Regions from separate parts of the Homo sapiens genome. Here all the other regions are linked to region 6. Evidence: fine-mapped expression QTL. A gene starts in region 6. Each other region holds a variant in brackets. All regions are shown on one strand. Distances are from middle to middle. Region 1 overlaps KLKB1 (kallikrein B1). Region 2 overlaps F11-AS1 (F11 antisense RNA 1). Region 3 overlaps KLKB1 (kallikrein B1). Region 4 has its middle 3.8 kb from the start of KLKB1. Region 5 overlaps F11 (coagulation factor XI). Region 6 holds the start of CYP4V2 (cytochrome P450 family 4 subfamily V member 2).

Region 1 (5,076 bases), 50 kb before region 6:
TTTAGCCACTCCTCTTGCCATTCCTTAAAAACAGCCCTAGAAACTGCTCCCACACTAGCTCTCCCTAACTCATCCCAACCCTTTTCATTACACACAGCCGAAGTGCAGGGCTGCGCAGTCAAAATTCTTACACAAGAGCCAGGACCACGCCCTGTAGCCTTTCTGTTCAAACAACTTGACCTTACTGTTTTAGGCTGGCCCCCACCCCCATGACTGTATCTCTCTGATCCACCTGACATCCACTCCATTTCCCCATATTTCCTTCTTTCCTGTTCCTTACCCTGATCACACTTGGTTTATTGATGGCAGTTCCACCAGGCCTAATCACCACTCACCAGCAAAGGCAGGCTATGCTGTAGTATCTTCCACATCTATCACTGAGGCTACTGCTCTGCCCCGCTCCACTACCTCTCAGCAAGCTGAACTCATTGCCTTAACTCAGGCCCTCACTCTTGCAAAGGGACTACGTGTCAATATTTATACTGACTCTAAATATGCCTTCCATATTCTGCACCACCATGCGGTTATATGGGCTGAAGGAGGTTTCCTCACTACACAAGGGTTCTCCATCTTAATGCCTCTTTAATAAAAACTCCTCTCAAGGCCACTTTACTTCCAAAGGAAGCTGAAGCCATTCACTGCAAGGGCCACCAAAAGGCATCAGATCCCACTGCTCAGGACAATGCCTATGCTGATAAGGTAGCTAAAAAAGCAGCGAGCATTCCAACTTCTATCCCTCACAGCCAGTTTTTTTCTTCCTCATCTGTCACTCCCATCTACTCCCCCATTGAAACTTCCACCTATCAATCTCTTCCCACACAAGGCAAATAATTCTTGGACCAAGGAAAATATCTCCTCCAGCCTCACAGGCCCATTCTATTCTGTCATCATTTCATAAACTCTTCCATGTAAGTTACAAGCCACTAACCCACCTCTTAAAACCTCACTTTTCCTTTCCGTCGTAAAAATCTATCCTCAAAAAATAACTGCTCAGTGTTCCATCTGCTACTCCACTCCTCCTCAGGGATTGCTCAGGCCCCCTCCCTTCCCTACACATCAAGCTCGGGGATTTGCCCCCGCCCAGGACTGGCAGATTGACTTTACTCACATACCCGGAGTCAGGAAACTAAAATACCTCTTGGTCTGGGTAGACACTTTCACTGGATGGGTAGAGGCCTTTCCCACAGGGTCTGAGAAGGCCACCGTGGTCATTTCTTCCCTTCTGTCAGACATAATTCCTCAGTTTGGCCTTTCCATCTCTATACAATCCGATAACAGACCGGCCTTTATTAGTCAAATCACCCAAGCAGTTTCTCAGGCTCTTGGTATTCAGTAAAACCTTCATACCCCTCACCATCCTCAATCTTCAGGAAAGGTAGAACAGACTAATGGTCTTTTAAAAACACACCTCACCAAGCTCAGCCTCCAACTTAAAAAGGAGGACTCTGTCAAGGATAGAGCCCAAAAACTCACCAACCAAGCAAGTAATTACACTGAACCCCCTTAGGCACTCTCTAATTAGATGTCCTGGGTCCTCCCAATTCTTAGTCCTTTAACACCTGTTTTTCTCCTTCTCTTATTCAGACCTTGTGTCTTCCATTTAGTTTCTCATTTCACACAAAACCATATCCAGGCCATCACCAATCATTCTATATGACAAATGCTGCTTCTAACAACCCCACAATATCACCCCTTACCATAAAATATTCCTTCAGCTTCATCTCTCCCACTGTAGGTTCCCACGCCGCCCCTAATCCCGCTCGAAGCAGCCCTGAGAAACATCGCCCATTATCTCTCCATACCACCCCCAAAAACTTTCGCCACCCCAACACTTTACCACTATTTCGTTTTCTTTTTCTTATTAATATAAGAAGACAGGAATGTCAGGCCTCTGGGCCCAGGCCTGCACGTATACATCTAGATGACCTGAAGTAACTGAAGAA[A/T]GACAAAAGAAGTGAAAATGGCCGGTTCCTGCCTTAACTGATGACGTTACCTTGTGAAATTCCTTCTCCTGGCTCAGAAGCTCCCCCACTGAGCACCTTGTGACCCCCCACCGCTGCCCGCCAGAGAACAACCCCCTTTGACTGTAATTTTCCACTACCTACCCAAATCCTATAAAACGTCCCCACCCCATCTCCCTTCACTGACTCTCTTTTCGGACTCAGCCTGCCTGCACCCAGGTGATTAAAAAGCTTTCTTGCTCACACAAAGCCTGTTTAGTGGTCTCTTCACACGGACGCACATGACATTAAATATATGCAATACTTCAGCCCAATGTCCTAACCTGTTAAAATTGTTTTTACTTTGCTTTTCCTATCTAATATGTTGGGCACTATTTATAGATATTTTGGCCAAGCAACCAGTTGATTTCTAGGACATTCTCTATTTCAAGTATGCCATCTGGTTAGCCTCCGAACAGAAACCATGATGTTGCTTCCCCTAATTGCAATTTTATCAACCAGCTTCGTTTATCAGACTTTCTTCCCCAGAGGTGATAAAAATAAAAAAACCTTTTTTTTCCAATTTATGTTTTCCTCCTTTTGGCTTGAAAATATGTGTACCATCTCAATTGATAAATTAATAAGTCACATGGTAGGAATTTTCCATGTCAGAGTTGCAAATGGTTTTGTTAAATTAACTGAGGAAACGTGGTTAGCCTGACATCTCTCAAGATCTATGCAGGAAGATGGACCACAAGAGAAGGAAATCTGTAAATATAATGAATTCATATGTGTTGAGAGGCAGGAGGCTTTAAAACACCATTAAATCCATTAAAAAAACAAAAGGTGGAGTGAGCACTGTGAAATGTGTGTGACCCAAGGGTCGAGTTCTGGTTCAGCTCATCAGCTGTGTTGCCCCCGGAGCACCTTCACTTCTACCCTCCTTCCAGGAGCCTTAGGGGTTTTGTTTGTAAAATTAGGAAAATCCTTGGTGAAACCAAGGACAAATCTGTAGTGATAACTACAGATCATCCCTAACTTATGAATCTCATTTGGGCAGTTAGGCCAGGAGACAGCCCTACTCTAGGTTTAGGAGGCATGTGGCTACTGGGTGTTCCCTGAGGAACGGGGACCACGTACTCAGTGAAAAGCCACGCCCTTAGCAGCTCAAAACACCACCTGAAACAGCCATATTTTTATCAGTCTGTAAAGGCCATTTGATCCGATTAAATCACATGTGAACTCACTGCAATTTAACAAGAAAGCAAGTACACAGATGAGCCATCCAGGGTGCTCTCCCAGGTGTGGACAGCAGCTGTGACAGCCCAGAGCCACAGCACGAGCTTGCCTGTTCCCTGGGTAAGTGCAGCAAATCCTTCCAGCAACAGGGCTGGGTACAGAATGGAGCATGTTTGCATCGAGTCCTGCCTCCTGGCAGCCTTCAAAAACTCTCCCAGAAAAAAATAATATGAACGTTAAAATTAAATCACCAGTACACGTGAACCTGGCACACACCATGGAGAAGGTGTGCTGTCGCAAAGAGGAGACAGGAAAATAGCCACCTTGTAACCAACCTTCCCAATCTTCCACAGGGAAATCCTAGCCCAGCACCCAATACAGGGCCAGGCACAGAGCCAGCACCCAGTACTGCGGAAAACTGGCCGTAAGGGATTTGCTTTTAGTAACATCTTGTCATTAACATCCTGACATGCTAAATGAGGTGGAATGTCATGGCAATTTTCTGGATAATTCCATTGAAATTACCTTTATGTGTGAAACGACAGAGTTTTATTTCCCTACCCCTGGTAGAGTCATTTCACTAGATAGGGACACAACCAAGGAATGACCTTACAGTTTTGCTACAACATCACTGTACCTATAACTATAACAATATCACTGTCCTATAACTATTACAACGTCACTGTACCTATAACTGTAACAATATCACTGTCCTATAACTATATCACTGTCCTATAACTATAACAATATCACTGTACCTATATCACTGTAACTACATCACTGTCCTATAACTATAACAATATCACTGTCCTATAACTATAACAATATCACTGTACCTTTAACTATAACTATACCACGGTAACTATAAGAATATCACTGTCCTATAACTATAACAGTATCACTGTCCTATATCACTGTACCTATAACTCTAACAGTATCACTGTACTAGTTTCCTATAACTATAACAATATCACTGTCCTACAACTATAACAGTATCACTGTACTAGTTTCCTATAACTATAACAATATCACTGTCCTATATCACTGTACCTATAACTCTAACAGTATCACTGTACTAGTTTCCTATAACTATAACAATATCACTGTACCTATAACTATAACAGTATCACCGTACTAGTTTCCTATAACTATAACAATATCACTGTCCTATATCACTGTCCTATAACTATAACAGTATCACTGTACTAGTTTCCTATAACTATAACAATATCACTGTCCTATATCACTGTACCTATAACTCTAACAGTATCACTGTACTAGTTTCCTATAACTATAACAATATCACTGTCCTATAACTATAACAGTATCACTGTACTAGTTTCCTATAACTATAACAGTATCACTGTCCTATATCACTGTACCTATAACTCTAACAGTATCACTGTACTAGTTTCCTATAACTATAACAGTATCACTGTCCTATGTCACTGTACCTATAACTCTAACAGTATCACTGTACTAGTTTCCTATAACAGTATCACTGTCCTATATCACTGTACCTATAACAGTATCACTGTACTAGTTTCCTATAACTATAACAATATCACTGTACCTATAACTCTAACAGTATCACTGTACTAGTTTCCTATAACTATAACAATATCACTGTCCTATATCACTGTACCTATAACTCTAACAGTATCACTGTACTAGTTTCCTATAACTATAACAATATCACTGTCCTATATCACTGTCCTATAACTATAACAGTATCACTGTACTAGTTTTCTATAACTATAACAGTATCACTGTCCTATATCACTCTACCTATAACTCTAACAGTATCACTGTACTAGTTTCCTATAACTATAACAGTATCACTGTCCTATGTCACTGTACCTATAACTCTAACAGTATCACTGTACTAGTTTCCTAT
Region 2 (5,076 bases), 260 kb before region 6:
TCTGCCCACCTTGGTCTCTTTATTCCTTTACTTTCCTAACAAACTTACATTCACTTTCCTCTATGGACTCACTCCCAATTCTTTCCTGGGCAAGGTCTAAGAACCCTCTCTTGGAGTCTGGCTCGGGACCCCCTTCCGGTAACAGGAATGGTGCCCCAGGCTGACTACTGGGTTCCATGGCGTCACAGGGACCAGGATATGCTCTGGCGGGATCTGTGGTCTTAACAGGTAACCCAGGTAGCAAGTACTTTGTTCTACTTCTTCACTGGCCCCTGAAAACCCACAGGAAATGTTTCCCATCACGAGATTGCCCTGCCAAACTGAGAATGAGAGATAGCTTTCCTCCTCGGTAAAGAGAGTTAGGTCTGCAGATTTTGTGTGTAGAGAATATGTTTGAAATACTTTCCACTCACTGGTCAAACTTTTGGAAGAAAACGTCTTCTAAAATGGTTTTTCTTTGATCCAGGAACTCTGTTTTTGTTTATGAGAATATTATTGTCATGAAAACTTTAAAACGTAGAGAGAATAATATGATGAACACCCACCAATCTAAGTCATATTATTTTCTGTATCTAAAAGCCAGATTACTACCTATATGTTGCAATCTAGCTATATGTTGCTTCATATAAATAAAATATTACAGATACAGTCAAACTCTCCTTTTTCTTATTCCCAAAATGATTACCTTCCCTTCTGCACCACAGGTAATGGTAATTGCACACTGGTGGATATGCTTCCTATTGTTATTTGTTTTTATTTTTATTTTTTTTTTTTTAGAGATGGAGTGTCACTCTGTTGCTCCAGCTAGAGTTCAGTGGGGCAATCACAGCTCACTGCAGTCTTGAACTCCTGGGATCTTCCCACCTCAGCTTCCTGAGTAGCTGAGACATCAGGCACACACAATCAGCTATTTTTTTTTTTTTTTTTTTTTTTAGGGACAAGGTCTCCGTGCATTTCTCAGGCTGGTCTCGAACTCCTGGACTCAAGTGATCCTCCCACCTTAGTGTCCTAAAGCACTGGGATTACAGACATGAGCCATCATGCTGGCCCTATTGTTATTTTTATATATTTACTATTTTTACATATAACCATACATAATATATTTAGTATCTTCAATTTTATGAAAACAAAATCATACTTCTATTATCTGCAACTATGTTTTCATTGAATATTATGTTTTTGAGATTACTCATTTTGACACATAGTGTGCTAATTTATTTATTTAACTGCTGTATATTAGTGCATTGTATTATTTTATGATAATTCATTCTTCTACAAATGGATATTTAAAGTACTTATATTTTTCACTATTACAAACAATGCTATAATGAACATTGCTGGGGAAATTTAATTTAAACCAAAATCTTCTCCCAACCTAGAAAACCTCTTCACAAAGGTAGCAGAGAAAGAAAACAGTTTTTAAAAATTGAATAGGCATTAAATCAGAATGTGCTATATATCACAGACAACCCACAAAGAGATTGCAAAGACAGAAAGAAATCTCACCCCTTCGTATAACCAAGCAGATACAATTCATTACATACATGCTCTCAAGGTATATAATAACTAGTCCTCAAGTGAGAGAATGTGATAGCACCATTTATTACACACAGTTCATCCTAAATTCACCTGGTAATCACTTTTAAATGAGGGAAAAATAAACATTTATTTTTATGACAAGAGGTAGTTTTGCAACTAGGAGCAAGGCATCCCCCAAAGACAGGCTCTTACTCTCCCCCAGAAACTGGGCCACAGAGGCACTGTCTCACTCGATGTTTACAAAGAGGTGATTTCCAGGTGCTTGAGAAAGCCATTCCTGGGTCGTAAAGCTGGCAAGAGGCTTATTGGGCTTGGAAAAAGATTTAGAGACAGAAAAGGAACTTACAATTACAAATCTTCTAAAGTAAATGTTCTAAGAAAAGAGAGAGGGAGAAGTTTCTTACCTTATTTTCAAACGGAAGAATTCGGCTATCATTTTTAATCTTTTTTATTTTTATTTTTATTTTTTATTTTATTTTATTTTATTTTATTTTTTTTGAGATGGAATCTTGCTCTGTCACCCAGGCTGGAGTGCAATGGCGTGGTCTCAGCTCACTGCAACCTCCGCCTGCCAGGTTCAAGCAATTCTCCTGCCTCAGCCTCCCAAGTAGCTGGAATTACAGGCACCCACCACCACGCCTGGCTAATTTTTGTATTTTTAGTAGAGACAGAGTTTCACCATGTTGGCCAGGCTGGTCTCGAACTGCTGACCTCATGATCTGCCCGCCTC[G/A]GCCTCCCAAAGTGCTGGGATTACAGGCGTGAACCACTGTGCCAGGCCCACTTTTAATCTTTATTTGTCCTTAAAATATTATTTTACATGTCTCACTGCAGATGTGTAAGGTATTAATATAATGCACGTAACAAGTAAAATTGCTCTTTTGTAGAACTTGTACTTTTGGGGGGTAGCTTTCATAGACATAATCAAAATACTTTCAGGATGGTTTTTCAAGTTTATACCCACACTAATGACGGATGAGTATTTCCATTTTTCAAAATTTTCACAATACTTGATAATGTTAGACTTTATAATTTTTTTCTTTTTTAGCATCAGGTTGGTGAAAACAGGTTTCATAATGTGTACAAAATGGATGGGTGAAAATGGTGTCAGCTTTAGTTTAACTTTTTATTTCCCGGGTTATTAGTGAAGTTTTGGTATCTCTTCACTGGCCACTTGTGTTTTTTTTCTGTGATTTGCCTATTTGTTTTCTTTGAGAATTTTTCTGTTCAGTTATCTTTTTAATATATTTTTCAAACTCTTACAAATCCTGAACATTATCCCTCTATTAATTAGATGCTTTGCAAATGGTCTGCTGATCTGTGGTTTGTCTTTTTGAGGAAAGCCTAAATAATTTTCAATGTGATTATTATACTTAATACAATAAGGCTGTCCTGACAGTGTTAACAAGAATTCTGGACAGAAATGTTGTTGTAATTAAGCAATAATCAGGCTGCGCTTTGACCCACTTCCTTGTAACTGAAAGGGCTGTTGCACCCGGCACTGAGCACTCACGTCCGCACTGTTCCTATAGGGAGGATTTCTGACCTTAGAATCATAAGGCTTGTGTTTAAGAAGTGCTTAAGCAGATTCTGAATTCCAGGAGAATAGTTGATGCCACCAGTTTGAAGACCCCACAGAGGAGCCAAATCAACGTGGGAATGCTGTTTCTTCATCTTCTTGTCCCAGTATTTCACCCTGCACTCTTTGACCAATCCATGATCTTCACACTTCAGCCTACTCCAAAATTCTTTAAAAACCCCACCCTCCTACTCCCCAGGGAGATGAATTTGGGGTTTCCTCTCATCTCCTCATTCAGCAGCCCTATGATGAAACCCCTTTCTCTGCTGCAGCCCCATATCTCAGTATGTTGACTTGCTGTGTGAGTTGGGCAACAGACCTATTATGGTTACAAGTGTTATAATAAACTGAGAAACTATGTCATGTTAAACATATATACTAGGACTCCTCCAAGCATACTCACACGGTTGTTGGCAAGCATCGAGCCCTTTCTCTGTGGGTCTCTTCAGAGAAACTGCCTCATGGCGTGGCTGCCGACCTCCCCCACAGGAAGGAGACCAAAAGAGAACATCAGAGAGTGCCCGCGATGGAGGCCACAGTCTTCTTATAGCCTAACATTAGAGCAGTGTCCCATAACTCCTCCAATACTCCATTCATTAGACGTAAGTCACTAAGTCCAACTCATACTCAGTGGGAGGAGATCCTATAAGGGCATCAATGCTAGGAGGTCGGGACATTTGGGGTCATCTTAGAAGCTGTCTACTGCAGTAGATTTTTGAGTATTTACCTGTCTATGAATGTTATAATCCCATTCTCACATTGGATTAATAGTTGGGTTAATTATAAAATTCTAGGTTGCAAGTCATTTTTCTTCATAAATGTAAGGAATTTCTCCAAAGTTGTTGAGAAGGTGGCCATCCTCCTGATTTGTGATGTGACTTGTTTTTCTTTATGGAAGTTTTTAGCAGCATCTCTCTATTTTTACGTTTTTACAATGAGGTCCTTCACTTTGGGAACTTTTTCTTGAACTTTTTCTTTGATTATTTTTTCTTCCCTTTTCTTATCTTTAAATTTCCTATTGGAGAGATATTGGCTGTCTTCTTCTTTTCTTCTCATGTGATCTCATTGTATCTTTTTCCTCTTCGTTTTGGTCTATCTTTCATGCTGGAAGATTTTTCACGTGTCTGGTGATTGATCCTTGGCTGTCCATTCATGGTTGAAAATGAACCACTAAAAAGCTGGTTGGATGCTCTGTAGGTAAGAGCTGAATTTGAGGGCTTGAGGATTTCATTGAGAAGGCCACAATATAGTGAACTGGTAGTGTCAGAGTCCTGGGGGAAAAAAAGGCAGTGTTTAAATTAGGACAATTTTTAGGAAAATTGAGTGAAATGACAACTTACAATGATGTAGACAGAATTGAAACTACCTTTGCAAGGATTATGACAGCAAGGTAAGTCTAGCATGGCTGATTCCATCTTGCTTCTAGCCCCACAGGCTGGCTGTCCTCACTTATTCCTAGGCATGGGCCAAGATAACTGATATGGTTTAGCTCTGTGTCCCTACTCAAATCTCATCTTGTAGCTCCCATGATTCCCACGTGTTGTGGGAGGGTCTGATGTGAGATGATTGAATCACGGGGGCAGATCTTTCCCCTGCTGTTCTTGTGATAGCAAATAAAATCTCACGAGATCTGACAGTATTTTAAGGGAGAGTTTCCCTGCACAAGCTCTCTTTGCCTGCCGCCATCCACATAAGATGTGACTTGTCCCTCCTTACCTTCTGCCATGATTGTGAGGCCTCCCCAGCCCTGTGGAACTGTGAGTCCAATTAAACCTCTTTCTTTTGTAAATTGCCCAGTCTTGGGTATGTCTTTATCAGCAGCATGCAAATGGACTAATACAATAACTATGGGAGGAATTTAGTTTCTGGTTTAACTTTAAAGCAAGGATGATAACAGTTCCCCCCTAAAACTGACTCCCTCCTTATTTGGGGACTGAAACTGCCTTTGTAAGACTAATGAA
Region 3 (5,076 bases), 44 kb before region 6:
GAAAAACAATGACCCTGATAATGAGTGGGTTAGGGGTCTGCATTATTAACCTAATGGACATCCTTCCCCTCGCAAAGGGGTAAAGGAAAAGTTAGGGTGAGAATGAGGCAGGAGACTCCGTGACACTAAACCCTCATTCTATAAGCAAGGCCTATGTGTGGGGCAAACGGAACTTCAGGAAAAATGACACCAAAATTCGCTTCAGGAAAGCGAAAAATGACACAGACTTCAGAAAATGACTTCAGAAAAAATGACACCAAAATTTTGCTTCAGGAAAAAATGACACCAAAATTGAGTAGAGCATGGAGCGATAGACAGTAGAGACTGGGAAGGTGACAGAGAGGTGGGAAGGGGGCGGGCGTTGAAAAATAGCTTAGTGGGTACAATGTACATGACTCCAGTGATGGATATACCAAAAGCCCAGACTTTACCACTGTAAAATACATCAAAGTAACAAAATTACACTTGTACCCCATACATCTATGCAAATAAAAATAAGATTTAAAAATAAGGAAAAAAATCACAAGTTAATATCAAATTGTGATTAGCTCTATGAATGAAATAAACAGAGCTGAGTGTGACTTAAAAGAGAATGCTCAGAAATGGGCTTTTGGAGGGGACGGTATTTGAGGAAAGACCTGCAAGAATCAGCTTTGGAGAAGTAGGGGAAGAGGATGTCAGGCTTTGAAGATGCGGTACAATTACATGCCAGGGGAAAAGAGTAGAGAAACAAATGAAATTAAATGAATTATTTAATTAAAAAATGAAGGGCGAGGCGCAGTGGCTCATGCCTGTAATCCCAGCGCTTTGGGAGGCTGAGGTGGGTGGATCACAAGATCAGGAGTTCGAGACCAGCCTGACCAACATAGTAAAACCCCGACTCTACTAAAAATACAAAAATTAGCCAGGCATGGTGGCGGACGCCTGTAATCCCAGCTACTCGGGAGGCTGAGGCAGGAGAATCGCTTGAACCCGGGAAGCGGAGGTTGTAGTGAGTCGAGATTACGCCACTGCACTCTAGCCTGGGCGACAGAGCGCGACTCCATCTCAATAAATAAATAAATAAATAAAAGATAAAAAAATAAAATAGAGTAAGTAAATGAGGAAAGTGGTTAGAATAAAAGCCCTGTTTGGTTTTTAGTTTGGGAACAAAAGAGGTTAAGAAGAATACAGTGAAATCCTGGAGGCACCAATACAAAGAACACACACCTTGAATTGTACTCACCGGTACTCTGCCTTGTGAAATGTTTGCGTGGCATATGAAAAAAACTGGCAGCGAATGTTACTGGTGCACCTTTTTTGGCATTCTTCAACACTGCTAACCTTAGACACATTAAAATTGACTCCTCTCATATCAACTCCTTTATAAATGTCTCGATGGCAAGCTGTACAAGAAAAATACATAGAGCAAATACAGTCCATTTTCTTTCTAGAGGTAGATTAGATACCCACTACCATTTGGGTTGGTAGTTTAGAATGATAATAGCCCAGTTTTGGCAACTGCTATATTAACTAAGGGATTTAAAATTTTTATTATGTACATAAATTATCGAACTCTGCTTGAAGTAAATACAATCCAATATTTTCCCTAAAGCACTAGCTTTGAAATTGGGTTACTTCACTTCTTAAACTGCAAGATGCATGCAGCAATACAGGTAAATTTCACGTTGAAATTATCAATGAGCAGTGGGAAATAAACAAGGCAATAATAATGAGGACACTGATAATGTGTGCTGAGGTTTGCATTATTAAAGAAACTGATGTGCCTTTGACCTTTCGCATTGAATGAAAGAGCTTCTCTATCTCCCAGTGTTATTTCTTTGCTTTCGACTTCTCCTGTCTGATGACAAATTGCATCCAGATCAATCATTACAAAATGTGGAGAGTTGTTGTTTACGCATGATGAAACCACTTCCATTCTTGCTTTAAAATAGTGTTAACTTCTATTTAAGCACCCTTTTCATTGAGATTTGTCTTACATGCAAAAGATACAGATAATTCTTTTCACAGACAGTGAAGCAAAATTAGGCTCTTTTTTTTTTTTTTTTTTTTGAGACGGAGTCTCGCTCTGTCGCCCAGGCTGGAGCGCAGTGGCGCGATCTCGACTCACTGCAAGCTCCGCCTCCCGGGTTCACGCCATTCTCCTGCCTCAGCCTCCCGAGTAGCTGGGACTACAGGCGCGCGCCACCACGCCCGGCTAATTTTTGTATTTTTAGTAGAGACGGGGTTTCACCGTGTCAGCCAGGATGGTCTCGATCTCCTGACCTCGTGATCCGCCCGTCTCGGCCTCCCAAAGTGCTGGGATTACAGGCGTGAGCCACCGCGCCCGGCCTCTTTTTTTTTTAAAGATTCAAATTTCTTGGTTAGACTTTTGGTTAAGGAAGTAATGTAACCAGAAGTATAAACTGTATACTTTTTTAAAGTTTTATTCCCCAAGATTATGTGGAATAAACCATAATCTACTACAGATACCTTTCCACTCCTAAGAAGTATGGTTGAAGTCATAAAACTAAATTTAAGGGTGGGAAAGACAGAAAATACACAAACTGTCAGGAAAACTATATGACAGTACGATGAGTTGGGCAGGGAGGTGGATTATTCACTGTGGTTCTTAAACACAGGAATTTGCAGACTGTGGAAACGAAGTCTCTTTCCTATTTTTCTGCATGTGAGAAAAGAACAGGCTAAGAGTTGGGATGCGACTCTTACAAATAAAAACTCTTTAAGTGTTCATACGGAAGCTCTAAATGCTTTTGACTAGAATTGTTCTTGAGTGTAGAGATTTTATGTACTTGGGAACAATTTTTCACTTTAAAAAACATTAAAAGCAAGCTAAGTGAGTAACAGTGAGTTTTAGAATACATGAACAATAACAGGAATATTGAGAAAGGCACAAATTACTTTTTCTTTAAATTTTGCTACAAGATACAACAATCAGAAATAGCACTTACTCGAATAATTTATACCAAATTGGATTAACATAAAAATTGATCTTTTAAAATAGGAAATGTACTCC[A/T]CCTCACGTAGACTACACCTATTATACTGGCTAAGTCAGGCCCACATTTATAATGAAGGCATTGCCATCCTTTGATAACTGGTTAAAATGCAAACAGCAGGCTCAAAGTGTGTACGTATTGAAGAGGTGATATCAATGAGGGAGGAAAGGATGACAAATTTAAAAACATCTGAAATTTGAACCTACAAAATTAATTGTGCATAATGAAAATAAAATAGTAATGATATATAGTCATACATAGAATAACAGCAGTTATTTTAAGATTCTGACAACCCATCAGTTGAATCTTTTCAGCACTTTTCACTTTCTTATCAGTCCCAGTCATGTTTGAGAAATAGTTCATTTGTCTTAAATTTATTAGGATAGCATTGGAAACTGTTTCCCAAGACATCAGTAGCTTCAGATGTCAGAATCAAAGTTCTCTAGCATCCTAGTCCTCAAGTTTCCTTTAGGAAGTATTATTCTTAGCAAGATTTGCAGAACTCAGTTCTTCAATTTGGGCCTAGTGGTATATCACAGAGTTTCTTGATGTCAGCACTGTTGACGTTTTGGGCCAGAAAATTATTTGCTGTGGACGACTGCCCTGTGCCTTGTAGAATGTTGGTCAGCATTCAAACATTCTGGCCTCTACTTAGTAAATGCTAATAGCATCCTCCCTAGTTGTAGCCACCAAAAATGTCTCCAGACATTGTCAAATGTCCCCAGTGGAAGAGACAAAATCACTGCTGGTTGAGAATCACTGATGTAAAAATTACCCTCAAGTGAACTTGAGAGAGATGTTCCCTTGTGTTTTCTTAAAAATTCTTATCTGGAAACGAGACACAATTATTTGGATTCATTTTCTGCAAATCTTACACTTGAGCGCTAACCTCATAAATAATAGAGGCTCATTAAGTATGTGTTGATTTATAAAGACAATAGAAGTGTCCAGATGAATATGGGTCCCTCTTTTGTGTCCAGAATACTGCCCCATCTCCTATCTTTATGAGTGATGCCTTCCAAAAAGCTGTAGCAGTACAAACTTTGAGCAAAAGCTGTTCTAAGCGAGATCCAATATTAACTCAAATGTAGCTAAGAAATTCACAACTTACCACTTATTTGATGACCACATTGCTTCAAGGAATGTCCAGAAACTGCACCTGTTCGATGTACTTTTGGCAGGGTTCCTGTAACACTATCTTTCAAGAAGCAACCAAACCTATTTTAAAAGTAGCTTTACTTAGGAAGTAGAATAATAAACATACATTGAGGAAATGTCTAGCATTTTCTACACACTAACAAATAAAACCAGGAATAAGGAAAATAATATAGCTTCCCCAATACTTGCTGGAAAGAACACTCTTAGAGCTAATTTTATAACACCCCATAATATCTAACTCCATCACTGCGTTTTCTTTACACTCACATTTTTTAAGTACAGGAAATCAACCATATTAAAGAGTTAATGATTTTTCCTGTGTTCTTAAACTTTCAGGCAACTATGTTCTCAATTGGTAATTATTTTTGCAAATACTTTCATTTACTTAAAAAGTTAACTTAGTGATAAGAGCTGGATTTGTATATCGTGTTCATCTTGCTTATTAACTCCTTGTAGTCTGCACTTAATGGAAGACTTCCCTCTGTCTTAGATGTCCACCTTCATGTTAATTTCATTATTTATAAGAATTCTAGAACCTTCCTCCACTTTTAATATGATGATCCTCACATACAATCTGAGTTTTCTCTACAAGTTTAACATGTGGGATCAGAGAATGACTATCCAATTTCTAGTTGGTAAACTCACATAGAGTGAAGATGAGTAAAGAGTTATGAACATGGAAATGGGAACAACAAAGAAAAGCTTACTCTGGATATTAATCAAAAGGAAAAATCATTAAGATGAAACTGTGGCTCGTGATTAATAAGCATCTCTCTGACCTAATAAAAATTGTAATTACCGCTGGGTGCGGTGGCTCATGCCTGTAATCCCAGCACATTAGGAGGTAGAGGCAGGTGGATCACGAGGTCAGGAGTTCAAGGCCAGCCTGGCCAATGTGGTGAAACCCCGTCTCTACTAAAAC
Region 4 (5,076 bases), 32 kb before region 6:
ATATAGATAGACAGTAAACAAAATCAGGAAAACAATACATGAGCAAAATTAGAAGTTCAACAAAAAGATAGATAGGAACCATAAAAAAGAATGAAACAGAAATTCTGGAGCTAAAGAACAAAATGACTGAATTGAAAAAATTCACAAACAGCTTCAGCAGCAGACTAGATCAAGCAGGAGAAAGAATCAGCATGCTCAGATACAGGTCATTTGAAATTACCCAGTCAGAGTAATAAAAGGAATGATAAAAATTGCAGAAAGCTGACAAGACTTATAGGACACTGTTAAGAAAATTAATATGCATTAGAAGAGTTCCAGAAGAAGTAGAGAAAGAGAAAGTTGCAGAAACTTATTTAAAAAAATAAGAATAGAAAACTCTCAAAATTTGGAGACATAAATGAAATAAACATCCAGATTTATGAAGCCCAAAAGAACTCCAAATAGATTAAATATAAAGAGATCCTCGGCCAGGTGCAGTGGCTCATGCCTGTAATCCCAGCACTTTGGGAGGCCAAGATGGGTGGATCATGAGGTCAGGAGATCGAGACCATCCTGGCTAACACAGTGAAACCCCATCTCTACTAAAAATACAAAAAAAATTTAGCCAGGCGTGGTGGTGGGCACCTGTAGTCTCAGCTACTCCAGAGGCTGAGACAGGAAAATGGTGTGAACCCAGGAGACGGAGCTTGCAGTGAGCCGAGATTGCGCCACTGCACACTGCACTCCAGCCTGGACAACAGAGCTAGACTCCATCTAAAAAAAAAAAAAAAAAAAAGAAATCCTCACCATGACAAAGAGAGAATTTTCAAAGAAGCAAGAGAAAAGCAATTCTTCACATACAAGGGAAGCTTCATAAGATTATTGGTGGATTTCTCAGCAGAAATCATGTAGGCCAAGAGAGAGTGGGATGATATATTCAAAGTATTGAAAGTACAAAACCTGGCAACCAAGAATATAATATCAGGCAAAGCTGTCCTTCAGAAAGGAAGGAGACAAAAAGAATTTCCCAGATGTATTAGTCCAGTTTCACACTGCTGTAAAGATACTACCTGAGACTGGGTAATTTATAAACAAAAGAGGTTTAACTGACTCACAGTTACCCATGGCTGGGGAGGCCTCAGGAAACTTATAATCACGATGGAAGGCAGAGGGGAAGCAGACACCTTCTTCACAAGGTGATACGAGAGAGAGAGTGTGTATGTGCAGGGGAAACTGTCACTTTTAAATCCCTCACTATCATGAGATCACAGCACAGGGGAAACCACCTCCATGATCCAATCACCTCTCACCAGGCCCCTCCCATGTAATCCCATGTGGGGATTACAATTCAAGACGAGATTTGGATGAGGACACAGAGCCAAACCATATCATTCTTCCCCTGGCCTTTCCCAAATCTCATGTCCTTTTCAGATTTCAAAACCAATGATGTCTTTCCAACAGTCCCCCAAAGTCTTAACTCATTCCACAGTAACCCAAAAGTCCGAGTCCAAAGTCTCATTTGAGACAAGGCAAGTCCCTTCCCTCAATGAGCCTTTAAAATAAAAAACAAGTTAGTTACTTCCAAAACACAATGTGGGTACAGGAATTGGGTAAATGTTCCCATTCCAAATGGGAGAAATTGGCCAAAATAAAGGGGCCACAGGTCCCAAGCATATGCAAAACCTAGCAGGGAAGTCATTAAATTTTAAAGCTCCAAAATAATCTCCTTGGAGCCCCTGTCTCACACCCAGGGCATGCTGATGCAAGGTGTGGGCTGTTAAGGCCTTGGGCAGCTCTGTCCCTGTGGCTTTGCAGGGTACAGCCCCTACGGCTGCCTTCATGGGCCGGCACTGAGTGCCTGCAACTTTCCAGTCAGTGGATCTACCATTCTGGCATCTGGAAGATGGGGGAACTCTTTTCACAGCTCCACTGGGCAGTGCTCCAGTGGGGTCTCTGTGTGTGGGCTCCAACCCCACAGTTCACCTCTGCACTGCCCTAATAGAGGTTCTCCATGAGGGCTGGGTCCCTGCAGCAGGCTTCTGCCTGGACAGCCAGGTGTTTCCACACATCCTGTGAAATCTAGGCAGAGGCTCTCAAAGCTCAGCTCTTGTTTTCTGTGAACTCGCAGACCCAAGAGCACGTGGAAGCCACCAAGGCTTGGGGCTTGCACCCTTGAAGCGACAGCCTGAGCTATGGACCCTTTTAGTCACAGCTGGAGCTGGAGTGGCTGGGGCACAGGGCACCAAGTCCCAAGGCTGCACAGAGCAGCAGGGCCCATGAAACCATTTTTCCCTCCTAGGCCTCTGGGCTTGTAATGGGAGGGGCTGCCTTGAAGACCTCTGAAATGCCCTGGAGACATTTCCCCATTGTTTGGCAATTAACATTCAGCTCCTGATTACTTATGTAAATTTCTGCAGCCGGCTTGAATTCCTCCTCAGAAAATTGGTTTTTCTTTTCTACCACATGGTCAGGCTGCAAAATTTCCAAACTTTTATGCTTTGCTTCCCTTTTAAACATAAGTTCCAATTTCATACCATCTCTTTGTGAACGCATATGACTTGACTGTATGCTTTCAGAAAAAGCCAGGTTATATTTGAATGCTTTTCTGCTTAGAAATTTATTCTGACAGATACCCTAAATCATCTCTCTCAAGTTCAAAGCTCCACAGATCTCTAGGGCAGGGGCAAAATGCTGCCAGTCTCTGCTAAAGCATAGCAAGAATGGCCTTTGCTCCAGTTCCCAATAGTTTCTCGTCTCCATCTGAGACCATCTCAGCCTGGACTTCATTGTCAATAC[G/A]ACTATCAGCATTTTGGTCAAAACCATTCAACAAGTCTCTAGGAAGTTTCAAACTTTCCCACATCTTCCTATCTTCTAAGCCCTCCAAACTGTTCCAACCTCTGCCTGTTACCCAGTTTCAAAGTTGCCTTCACATTTTCAGGTTGTCTTTATAGCAGTACCTCACTCTGCCAGTACCAATTCTCTGTATTGTTTATTTTCACACTGCTAAAAGATATCACCTGAGACTGGGTAATTTATAAACAAAAGAGGTCTAAATGACTCACAGTTCCTCATGGCTGGGGAGGCCTCAGGAAACTTACAATTATGGTGGAAGGTGAAGGGGAAGCAGGTACCTTCTTCACAAGGCAGCAGGAGAGAGAGAGAGCATGTGCGCACGGGTAACCACCACTTTTAAACCATCAGATCTCATGAGAACACCCTCACTATCATGAGAACATAATGGGGGAAAACACCTCGTGATCCAATCATCTCCCAACAGGTCCCTCCTTTGACACCTGGGGATTGCAATTCGAGATGAGATTTGGGTGGAAGTTCAGGAACAAATCATATCACCAGACAAATAAAAGCTGTGGGATTTCAACACCATTAAACCTGCCTTACAAAAAATGCTAAAGGGAATTCTCAAGTTTAAACAAAAGGACACTAACTAACATGAAAACAAATGAAAGAATAAAACTCTATTAAAGGTATTCTTATACAGTCAAATACAGAATACTCCAATACTGTTATTGTGCAACAGTCACTTTTAACTCTAGTATAAAAGTTAAAAAACAAAAGTATTAACAAATAACTATAACTACAACAATTTGCTAATGAATACACAACATACAAAAGATATAAACTATGGCATGAATAATAAAATGTGGGAGGAGGAGAAGTTAAAATACAGTATTTTTAAATGCAGTCAAAGTTGTTACCAGATTAAAATGGATGGTTATAACTATGAAATATTTTATGTAAACCTCATGATAACCACAAAGAAAAAGTCTGTAGTAGATATACAAAACATAAAGAGAAAGGAACCAAAGCAAATTGCTCCAAAAAAGTTATTAAGTCACAAAGGAAGACAGTGAGACAAAAAGAAGCAACAAAGGAACTACAAAACAATCAGAAAACAATTAACAACATGATAGTAGTAAGCCTTTACCTACCAATAATTACTTTAGATGTAAATGTATTAAATTATCCAATCAAAAGAGAGAGTGGATGAGTGAATAAAAAACAAGATCTAACTATATGCTGCCTGTAAGAGACTAACTTTAGCTTTAAGGACAGACATAAGCTGGAAGTGAAGGGATGAAAAAGAGATTGCATTCACATGATAACCAAACGAAAGCAGAGGTGGCTATCCTTATAACAGATGAGATAGAGTTTAAGTCAAATACTGTCACAAGAGACAGAGAAGGTCATTATATAATGGTAAAAGGGTGAATTCATTAAGAGGATATAACAATTGTAAATACACATGTACCCAAAATCAGTGCATCTAAATCTATAAAGCAAATATTAACATAACTAAAGGAGAAATAAATAGCAACATGCTTTCAACAATGAATAGATCACCTGGACAGAAAATCAACAAGGAAACTGTGGATTTCAAAATGCTATAAACCAATAGACCTAACGGACATGTGCAGAACATTCCTTTCAAAAGCAGCAGAATGCACATTCTTTTTAAGTGCACACAGAACACTCTCCAGGATAGGTTATATGTTAGGCCATGGAAAACATCTTAACAAATTTAAGGATTGAAATCATATCAAGTATCTTTTCCAACCATAATGGCATAAAAGTAGAACTCAGTAACAGAAGGAAAAATGGAAAATTCACAAATACATGAAAATTAACATACTCCTGAACAACCAATGAGTCAAAGAAGAAATCAAAAGGAAAATCAAAAAATGTCTTGAGAAAAATGAAAAGAGAAACAAAATTTGTGGCATTGAAAATTTATGGGATGCAGCAAAAGCAGTTCTAAGAAGGAAGTTTATAGCGATAAATACCTACCTTAAGAAAATGGAAAGATCTGAAATATCCTAACTTTACACCTGAAGCAATAAGAAAGTAAAAAAAAAAAACTAAGCCCAAAGACAGAGGAAGAAAGAAAATAATAAAGATCAGAGCAGAGATAAATGAAATAGAGACTAGAAAAACAACAGAAAAGGTCAATGACACTGTTATTGTTTTTAAAAAGATAAATCAAGAAATCTTTAGCCTAATTAGGAGAAAAAGAAAAAAAACTCAAATAAAATTATAAATGAAGGAGGAAAGATTACAATGGATACCACAGAAATACAG
Region 5 (5,076 bases), 90 kb before region 6:
GCGTGAACCACCACACCTGGCCACTTTCTGTATTTAAACACACACGCACACACACACACACACATATTAGAAATTTGATTCAGACAATGGTAAATCCTCTGTGAGTTTAGTTCCGGGCACAGTGCACAGAGCGAGGCACAGAGGGAGGTATGCTCTTGCAGGGAATAACATGAAGGCCCTTGGGGATGTGAATGCGGTTAAATGGGAAGCGGAATAGCAGGCAGTCAAGCAGCCTTGTACCTGCACCTGTTCTGATGCTGGGAGACCATGAGCTCTTCCTTTTTGCGTTTTTTACCACTGAAGCAATTAATTAATTTTGCAAATAAGACAATCTAATTGGTTAAAGTATTTATTTCCTAACATGCTAGTAATATTTTTTATAAATGTGTGAAGAAGATGAACTAATAAAAACAGCCGTGGTACTGACCCATAGAAACAGTGAGCGGCTGTTAATATCCACTGGTTTCCAATGATGGAGCCTCCACACAGGTGTCTCTGAGTGGGTGAGGTTGTGTGCAGGGTCACCTGCCACGGCCACTCACCACGAACAGACGCAGTTCCTCCAACGATCCTGGGCTTGATTTTGGTGGTACACTCTGCAACAGAAGCATTGTGATGAGCAGCTTCCTACATCTTCCTTTCCATCAGTAATTATGCTCCTTCAGGAACAAGAAGAAAACCTTTCCTCAAGTCAATAGTTTATCATGACCCTGAGTTACAGAGACTTTATAATCAAGCTGCCAAAGCAAAACATGCACATGAAAAATGGAATTGACTAAGTCATCTTGTAATTACACACCCCTAAGAATGTAGCCCTCCTTGTGTGGTACTACAAGGCTGTCTTACCCTCCTTCAAATGATAACGTGAATGGTGTTTTTAAACCAGTGGTTGTCAAGTGCAGTCTCCAGACCAACAGCGTCACCTGGGAACGTGTTAGAAATGCACATTCTTCAGCCCAACCTCAGATCCAGTGAATGAGAAACTCCAGCCTGGAAGCTCAGCCATCTGTGTTTGAACCAGCCCTGCTGGCGTTTGAGAACTGCTCTTAGAAAGAAAAGGCAAGCACCTTGCCCGCAGGCTGCAGCCATTGTCCAGTTCCTGCCCTGTCCCAGTGACTCTGCTGACCATGATCCCAGTCACTCCTGCTCCACCCACGTCCAAAGTAAGACTGATCTGCTATGAACTTCCTCTGACCTTTGGCCTTGTTGACAGTTTGGGATTCTCTGGGGTCCTTGGTACTTTTCAGGGACTTTGACTCAGGCTCATCCCTCTGTTTCTTTTCTCTTGGGGCTGCCTAGACAGGACAGTGCCCTCTATTTCTACTTACTGGATGCCCGACACAAGAACCCACCCTCCCGGTTGGAGCCATGGAACACAGATGGATGGGAATAGGGTGTTCGTAGACAGCAGTATTCTAGACACACACACACACACGTGCACACAAACACACGCACACATACATGCGCACACACACGCACACACCTATGCGACTCAAAATTTATGTGCCTGTGGGTTGCCTGTGTAGCTTTCAAAATGCAGATTCTGACTCAGTAACATCTGTGTGGGTCCTGAAATTCTTTCTAACAAGCTCCCAGGTGATGTCAATGTGCTGTGCCCAGATCACATTTAGAATAACCAGGCTCAGGTGCTCAGAAGGCTCCGCGTCCTGAGCTAAGGGAGGAGTCTAAGTTAACAGAAGAATCACTGATGAGAAGCCGGGTCCTAGAAGGTCCATTCACTAGTTTTGTGGGTGTAAAACAACCTTTCTAGGCCTTTTTTTCCTTGGTAGGAAAATGAGTGTATAATTCTGGGGCAGATTTCAAATAGGAGGAGAGGATGAGAGAAGGAGTTCGGAAGGAAACAGCAGCTAACAGCAACTGAGGTGAGAACGAGCACGATGTGACTTCGGAAGCCTGAACAGAGGCTCTCATTTTAGAGCCGGAAGGGTGAACATTCATTTTGGAGGGCCATCTATTCTGGAATTTCTGCAAGGTGGGAAGCGTCATAAAGGTAAATTTTAGGAAAATTAATAGGTAAATAGTAACTAAGATATTTTAGAAATAACTCAAGGTCCAGGTGAGAGGCCTTGAGGTTCATCCTATGCTGTTTCTCAGTTTAAACGAAATGCTGAAAATATGTGTTTAGAATCATATTTTGTGGTAAGAAATGTTTATTTTAATGGTGCTGCTATCTATCTTCAGAAAGTTAAGTTACATTGTAGACCAGTGACAGACAAGGCACCATAAATATCTCACGCAGCTATTCCCTTTCACATTAGGGGGTTATTTCATCAAATACAGCGCAGTAAAAACCTAGTTATCTAATTCACTCCCTCCAAAGTTGCACTGAAAAGACGTAAGACTTTATTTTCCTTTATCTTACATTTTCTCCTGTAGCTATCAATCTATACCTGGCATATTCTGTAACTTCTACAGGCCAGAGTCTATAAATCCAACAGAGAAAACCATAATGAAGAAGGAAGGGGGAAAATGCAGTCTGCAATGTATTGAGGTATACGTGCTCATTCCCATTTTATTAAACCATGTCAACATTACTTAACAGCAACATTTGCTAAGTGTCCCTTCTAACGCTTAGAAGTAGAAGAAAGACAACAGAATGGTGCCGAATGCTCCTTCTTGTCTTAGGGAAATTTATTGTGAGGAAAACAGAATGTATGAGATACGACGTAATTGACTTGCTTTTTAAGAAGTCTTGAGCCATCCAGAGATTTTCATCGGAGCGCCTCTAAGCTCTAGGAAGGCATAGTCTGTTAGTTAGGATACCAGTGTTGGAGGCAATATAACGTCTTTATGTTCTACAAAACAAGTTCTCAGAAATTAAGGATTGATTCGCCTTCTCGGTACAGCAGATAATCTGACACAGAATGTTTTTGTGCTTCTAAAACTATCACGAGGCAGGATTGTTACTTCCATTTTATTCATTAAATCTCAGTTGCACCTTATAGTGTATTGTAATATTGGACATTTGGCAATAAACAGTATAAGAACATGCAGCTTTATGTAAATCAATATATAGTAAAGCCATC[C/T]TAAGTTACTATGGTAATTTAAGCAGGAGTGTTTGTGGTGTGTTCTTTCCTGTTGGGGATTTTGTCCCTTAGAACAATTCTGTTTGCCTACAAAGCATCTCTCGTGACTATGCTCAGAAATTGGCCACTGGGATGGAAACACTGCTGGTTGGATTTTTATTGTAACTTTTATGTTATTACAGGTCTCGTGTAATCTAAACACTTATTTCCATCCTACCACACTCATTGTTACTAGTAAAGTTTTACCTTAACCTTTGCCAATCCCTAAGTCTCCAGAACCCTGCATGGAATCTGAATAAAGACCCTAAAAAGGAGGTGCTCCAGTATTTCTTGAATAGATACACAATTTTTGGAAGAAAATTAGTAATTTGACTAACCAAAGTGCTGATCGATAATTCCCTTACAAAGGATAATAGGAAAGATTACTGGCCTTGATAACAGGAGTGTTGGCAGAGTCTGGGTCTCATTAGGAAATGCCAGTTGTGGCTGGGTGCAGTGGCTGAAGCCTGTAATCCCAGAACTTTGGGAGGCCAAAGCGGGAGGATTGCTTGAGCCCAGGAGTTCAAGACCAGCCTGGGCAACATGGCAAGATCCCATCTCTACAACAAATTAGCCGAGTGTTGTGGTGCACGCCTGTAGCCCCAGCTACTCAGGGAGCTAAGGTGGGAGGATTGTTCGAGTCCAGGAGTTCAAGCCAGAGGCTGCAGTGAACACTGACCACATCACTGCACTCCAGCCTGGGCAACAGAGTGAGACTGTGTCTCAAAAAAAAAAAAAAAAAAAAGAAAGAAAGAAAACAGAAATGCCAGGTGTATAAATGTGTCAAATTAAAGCATATATTTAGTTAATACTAGGCAATGTACAGTTTAGTCAAGCCTCAATATTTACCTTTAAAACATGGTCAGCTTGAGTGACAGGAGTGAAAATAATAGAAAATTGCAAAATTTGTTATTTCCTGAATGTTCTCCCTTCTGTGGCTATAACTGACAGTCTTGATTGTGATGTATGAAGCATGGAATAATTCCTTCAGCTATATTTTTTCAAGTGACATTATACTCACCATTATCCATTTTACACAACCTTAATGTGTATCCAGAGATGCCTCCTCTCCCGTGAAGTATTTTAGTTGGAGATCCGTTTGAAGAAAGCTTTAAGTAACACTTGCCCCTGCAGTTGGAAACAAAACGGTATAAACATAATGCACCTCACAGGCAGACGGGACAAGGGTGTCTGCATAACCCTTCATATGGCTTACTTCCCTTCGTTGCAGGATGCTTGGGCTGGGGTATAGGTAAAAAACTGGCAGCGGACGGCATTGGTGCACAGTTTCTGGCAGGCCTCGTGACTTTTTGCAGCAACAATATCCAGTTCTTCTCCCAAGAAATCAGTGTCATGGTAAAATGAAGAATGGCAGAACACTAGACAGCAGACCACATGTCAGAGTGAGACCCTCCCTCAGCATGTATCAGCCTCCTCGGGGCTGGTCACTCTCAGCCAGAATGCAGAACTCTCAGTTTACCTGGGATGCTGTGCCTGCAGCTTTGTAGACTGAAACCAGAAAGAGCTTTGCTCTTTTTAATGCGTGTACTGGGCAATCCACTCTCAGATGTTTTAAGGAGACAAAGATTTCTAACAAAAACAAAAGGGAAGTAGAAATATATCATATCAAACACATAAAAACATTTTTACAGCACCTAGAGAAAGTAAAGTCAGCTCATGCTAGCACTTAGTTGTGAAGATTTTCCTATTTTGAAAGTACTCTTCATAAACCACGGAGTTACACCCATAAACCATGGAGTCACACTCCATGGCCCTTAGGTTGCAGACAAATTTTCTAACTAAATCACCTCCATAAAAATTTTCTGAGCTTGCTCTATTGTCAGTCTTCCTAGTATCTTCCCTTTTCATTTCCTTCCTTTCAACACTCCCAGCCTATCTTAAAGATTCAAGAGTCTTCATGCTACCTAGAAACCTCCTATCCAGGGTTGCAATAGGTTTATAAGGAGATGGGTGAAGTCCGTCGTTTACT
Region 6 (5,073 bases):
GCGGTATTCCTCTGTGTACTCAATGATCTGCTGAAAAAATTCTGGGGAAAAACATCAAATTTGAAATTCAATCAAGATGAGAAAGTTGTGACCAGTATTGGACAAAGGTTTGTTTTCTCATTTTGATGAATATACTAATTCTGTAATATGTTACTGTTAGAGGAAGCCAGGTAGAGAGCATGTGTGAACTGCCTGTAATACTGCAACTTTTCTGTAAGTCTAAAGTTTTTTTCAACATAGTATTTGCCACAGCAAATAAACACACATAATGCATGTTAGCTATTAGAGAATAATAATTATTAGGTTTTGATGTCCCAGAACGGGCATTCTTTCTAACGACTGCCCAGTATCACAGAGCTAGTAAATGGTGGAAACTGGCTTGTACCGAGCGAGACTCCAGAACTTCACCATAAACTATGCTGCTTCCAAATGTCTCTCAGATGAAGCAGTTGTCAAAATTGCTATGAAGGGAGCTGGGTGAAATCACCAGTGTCAATCATCCTGCGTCATGCAAATATACTGCCTGCCCTGGTCTGGTCTGACAGAGGGGACAGGGAGGTCTCAATCTGTGGTTCTAAGGCAGCAGGTCCAACAGCTGGGAGTAGCTGGGGAAGGCAGACTTTGTCACAATGGACTGGAAAATGCTAGATTAGAGTTTAGAGGCCAGTTGGAAGCCAACTGCAATCTTCAAGGTGAAATGGCTGAGGCCAGCGTTTGGACATTAGCCGCAAAATGAAACGCAACACCTCTTGTATGTGAAAGACAAGATTCTTGGGAACAACGACTGTATCTTAGAATATTCTGATATCCCCAACTTTGTTGAGGTCAACACTGGGCACAAAGCAGGGCCTTACTAAATGCTTGATTGACAACTAAAGAACTTACTCTAACTGACTTCTAGACAGTGATCTAGAAACTTTGCATGCAATAAATTTAATCCTTAAAGTGACTCTGTAATATAGTCACTTTAACAAGTAAAGGAGAAAGAAAACCCTCTAAGTTAAAGAGTTTTAAATAATTTCTCAAACAACTTGGATATAGTGTTGGAAATTGAACAGTGGTTTTCCTGATGCCAAAATCCAGAATTTGTTGGTGGAATAAAAAGTCCCTTTGTAAAAGACAGTATTCGTCATTGTCTTCACTCTGAAAGTGACTACAAGGAGAATTACTTTAAATAGTCCAGTCAGCTCACAGGTTGTTTTGAAACAGGTCTTTATTCACTAGAGATTTTAATTACTGGAATCCCCAAAACAGTATGATGAGACTTCAGTATATTACTTTCCAGGGGTAGGGGATAGGGGAAAATCTATATTTTTGTACAGTTTATTTTTTAATACCATAAAGCCTTAGGACAAAAGGGGTGGTTAGCTCTGCTTTTAGAATTAACTGAGATGATTTTTACCAGTGTGATTTTCATATCTGTGTTGGATTACTTGTTACATCAGTCATGATGATATTTGGTTGGCAAAGAGTTCGCTTGATTTTTTTCTGTCAAAGTATTTTTAATATTTTGGTAAACACTCTTCCATGAGGCCTCATCTTGTGAAGTTGAAATTACAGCATTATTTTTATTAGAGAAAACAAGTGAAAATGAGAAAAAGTCCTTCAAGCTTTGGAGTTAGTTAATGCTCAGCCTGTAAAACGATTACTAACAAATAATCCCAGAGGAAACTGGGTTCTGGTCTGGGCCAATTTTAAAATATGCCATTTTGGGCAAATCTTCTCATTTCTGGGTACCTCAACGTAATCCCTGATGAAAATAAAACTCTGAGATCGAGTTCGCCCTCCCTGACAGGGAGTTGTAAATACCAGGTACTTTTGAGAGCTTTCTAACTTAACGTGATTTTTTTCCATCAATAAAATGTCCATCTCTGTTTTAAAACATGATTTTAATTAAAAAATTCACTCTTTAATAAACAAGGCGTTTGACACCCTCCAAAGAAGTCTGCCTGAAGGCCCTGCCGTCTCTTAATTGTTATTATGTAACATCCTTTAAAGGGCTAAAGTATGAAGGTCAAGCGGGAACTGAAGCAGCAGTCAAGTCTTGTGATGCCGGGAGGAAGCGTCCAGTGAATCTCTAGTCTCTTATTTTCCAAAGTGGCAGCGAGAGGAGGGCGGCTCTGGGCGTTAAGGTGTTGGCCAGTTTAAAACCGCTCTGTGCTCCCAGGGAGCTTCTGTTCCTAAGGCTTCCCAAGCCAAGGCAGGAGGAAACGGCAGGGCTTTGAGAGCTGAGCAGCGGTGAGGTGGGAAAAGACCGAGGGCAGGGGTTTGGAAATACCGCATCCTGTGCTACACACAAAGAAAATGCTCACTTTGGGATGGGGCACTAGCAGTGTCGGCGGGTGCCAAGGGGCAACGACTAGAACTGGGAGTGCATTCTCCACAGGGTGACAGGCTCCTCTCTCCTGCGGCCAGCGCCACAAGCAGCGGGTTCCTGGCTGATCGGAGGGTGGGAACGGGGCTGCGGACCCCGTTGCGCTCCAGGAGGAGCGCCGGCCCTTACCTCGCCCGTCCGGCTTCATCAGCAGCGCGTGGCCCACCAGTGGGTAGGCGCGGGCCACCGTGGGGATGGGCCGCATCTGCTGCCATTTCCGCGCGTAGCTCGCCACCCTCTGCAGCAGGCTCAGGACCAGACTGGCGCCGGCCAGGGAAAGGGCACTCGCCGCGCCCCACAGCAGCAGCTTCTGCCACACGAGCCCCAGCCAGAGCCCCGCCATCGCCCCGGCTGGCGGCCGCGGGGTGCACTCCGGGAAAGTGCGGGCCCGCGGGGGCGTGGTGCGAGGCGGTGCCGGCCGCACACCGCCCACTTCCCCGCGCGGACCTGGCGCGCTCCCCGCTGCGGGGTCGCCCGGTCCCCGGAACGACGTTTCCCGCCCGGGCGGCGGCCAGAGAGGGCGCCACGGGGCTGTTCCTGCGCCCGGCCCGGCCTACGCAGCACCGCGGCCTCCACGCCCCAGCCGAAAGCGAAAGACCGGAAAACGGTTTCCGGGCCCCAGGGCGTAGTGATTGCACTGGAGGCCCGGAGGCTGCGCCGGGAGGAGGCCGGCGACACTTCCGGCCGCCTCCGGATGCGGGGTCAGGGGCGTCGGAAAGGTCACCGCGGCAGCCCGGCGCGCCCCAGCGGGGCTGTTCTGAGGGTGCTGCGAGGTTGCTCTACGTGCGGGATTCCGCGGGCGGGCAGCCTGCTCTGGAGAGGAAAGGAAGGCGCATCCGGCTCGGAGCCCAGCTCTGCTGCGCATCGCTCGCTCCCTGCGCAACTTGCAGCCCCGGGAGGCGGGGCGCGTCCTGGCTCCCGCGGGGTCACATGGAGCAGCGGGCGCTGTAATCCAGGGAGGCTTTGGGGACACGTTAGGGAAGTCAGCTACCCGTGTGTGTCCGCTGGCCCACTGGGACACTGGGAGCTCAATGAGGTGGTTATGAGCCAGGTATTTTCCAAAATACGCACCAGGCACCAGACCGAGGAAGCCGGAGCCCCGGAGAGCACGCAGGGGCGGGTGGGAGAGGAAGGCGGGCGAGGCTGCTCAGCGGGTGCCGGGAGACCGCAGCCGCGGGGTACTCGCAGAAGAGCCAAGACCTGCCACCCAGCCCGGGAAGGGAGGGAAGGGCCGCGAGAGGGTGCCCCATTTCAGCCTGGGGAGACGCGTGTGCTGGCCGCCAGTCTCTCTTCCCGGCAGAGGGCCCCAGTGCTGACCCCAGCCCCTTTTCCACGCTCGATGCTTCTTACAAAGTGGCCGGGCGAGGAGTGTCGCTCCCCGAGAGGCCAGGCCCTTCCTAAACACTAAAGTGCCAGGAAGATGAAACTGAATGTCCTGGATGCCCGCTTTGCTTAATTACTAATTACGTTCGTTCACTCGAAGCCACTGCATAAGTTGGCCACAGCCACCTGCAGGGCCTCTTTAGTGCAGAGAAAAACATGCCTAAGGCTTTTCTCCATTTGAATTTGTTTTAAGTCATCTGCATGGGCTGACGTGAAATAGCAAGTGAACAAAACAAGTTGCAGAACGGAGTGTGTAAAGTAATGCCTTCTTTTGGAGAAAAGGTTTCTTTCTCTACGGCTCCACTAATGTCTGCAAGTAAAAATACTGATCAGCTCTATGGAGTGGGAATGAAGATGGGGAACTTACGCTTTTTATTTCATTCACGTCTACATTGTTTAATCACTTTAACACTTTAAAAAATAAATATGTTCACTTAGTATCTTTAAGCAAGTCTCATGGGCTTTAGTTTCCTCCTCTCTAAAGGGTTGAGGCTGAGCTATAATAAGGTTAATTACAGCTATAAAAGTAAACAATTTGTCTACATACTGGGGATTCTAAAATAGGGGGAGGAAGGAAGGGGAGTAATGGTTGAAAAACTGTGTATTGGGTACTGTGTTCCCTATTCAGGTGAGGGGATCAATAGAAACTCAAACCTCAGCGTCAGGCAAATTTAACAAACCTGCACATGTGCTCTTGAATCTAAAATTAGAAAGAAAAAGGGTTTGTCTGTATCAGTCTCTGCTAACCTCTGTGGATAAAACCAGGCGGGTAACATACAACCCCTCCCCTCCAGAAGGAGAGAAGGGAGATTGCTCTGGGCAGCAGTGAGTCTCGGCCTGGGCAGAAATGGTCAGAAATGCTGCAGAGCCAGGAGGGGTAAAATGAGCTCAGGGGGCAGTGAGGTGCCCCTGCCTGGAGCACAGGGTCCCACGCAGTGACAGGTGCAGGATGAGGTGGGTGGGTATGGAGCCAGCTTAAAGAGACCTGCACTGCCAGGCTTAGACGCTTTATCTTTATTTTGAAGGCAATCTGTGGGTAAAGAACAAAATAAAAGCCTTGTCCCTTTGTTCCCTTAGCCATCTTTCTTATGCTTTCTTTGTTACCAGATAGGGCCTTTCTCATACTACCCTGGAATACTGAAATTTCAGACTAAACCAGTCAGGTGGCTGGGAGTGCAAGAAATCCTTGGCAAGACCCTTCTCCCCGGAAAGCCTCCTGACAGCAGAGTACACAGTGTCACACCTTAGAATGTCCACCATGAAATGTAATGGTGCTCAGTGTAGCAGATGATTGCAAGGCCAGTGTGAAGGCAATC

The links. PIP is the estimated chance that this variant, and not a neighbour inherited with it, causes the effect.
Region 1: its variant is fine-mapped to the expression of CYP4V2 in fibroblasts (GTEx, PIP 0.94).
Region 2: its variant is fine-mapped to the expression of CYP4V2 in hippocampus (GTEx, PIP 0.98).
Region 3: its variant is fine-mapped to the expression of CYP4V2 in whole blood (TOPMed, PIP above 0.99).
Region 4: its variant is fine-mapped to the expression of CYP4V2 in pancreas (GTEx, PIP 0.92).
Region 5: its variant is fine-mapped to the expression of CYP4V2 in adrenal gland (GTEx, PIP 0.97).

Annotation. Positions count from the first base shown.
Region 1 is chr4:186,239,128-186,244,203 of GRCh38, reverse strand. The region is part of intron 6 of KLKB1 (kallikrein B1); the gene reads right to left. LOC124900873 (a long non-coding RNA gene) reads right to left here. Exons shown (of 2, transcript XR_007058497.1): 2 at 3,710-5,039. Among named protein-coding and RNA genes, the nearest start is that of KLKB1, 14 kb to the right of the region's middle. RefSeq lists enhancers at 1-376, 377-905, 2,494-3,099. The variant A/T (reference allele first, on the strand shown) is at 1,944.
Region 2 is chr4:186,452,730-186,457,805 of GRCh38, reverse strand. The region is part of intron 1 of F11-AS1 (F11 antisense RNA 1); the gene reads left to right. Among named protein-coding and RNA genes, the nearest start is that of F11-AS1, 46 kb to the left of the region's middle. The variant G/A (reference allele first, on the strand shown) is at 2,270.
Region 3 is chr4:186,233,090-186,238,165 of GRCh38, reverse strand. It overlaps KLKB1 (kallikrein B1), which reads right to left. Exons shown (of 15, transcript NM_000892.5): 4 at 4,108-4,214; 5 at 1,226-1,385. Among named protein-coding and RNA genes, the nearest start is that of KLKB1, 8.1 kb to the right of the region's middle. The variant A/T (reference allele first, on the strand shown) is at 3,017.
Region 4 is chr4:186,221,123-186,226,198 of GRCh38, reverse strand. It overlaps a transcript of KLKB1 not described here. Among named protein-coding and RNA genes, the nearest start is that of KLKB1, 3.8 kb to the left of the region's middle. RefSeq lists an enhancer at 1-185. The variant G/A (reference allele first, on the strand shown) is at 2,776.
Region 5 is chr4:186,279,612-186,284,687 of GRCh38, reverse strand. It overlaps F11 (coagulation factor XI), which reads right to left. Exons shown (of 15, transcript NM_000128.4): 8 at 4,567-4,676; 9 at 4,303-4,465; 10 at 4,108-4,214; 11 at 428-596. Among named protein-coding and RNA genes, the nearest start is that of F11, 16 kb to the right of the region's middle. The variant C/T (reference allele first, on the strand shown) is at 3,048.
Region 6 is chr4:186,189,468-186,194,540 of GRCh38, reverse strand. It overlaps CYP4V2 (cytochrome P450 family 4 subfamily V member 2), which reads right to left and starts at 2,974. Exons shown (of 11, transcript NM_207352.4): 1 at 2,504-2,974; 2 at 1-41. The coding sequence starts at 2,717. It overlaps FLJ38576 (a long non-coding RNA gene), which reads left to right and starts at 3,051. Exons shown (of 1, transcript NR_046264.1): 1 at 3,051-5,073. RefSeq lists a silencer at 2,648-3,177.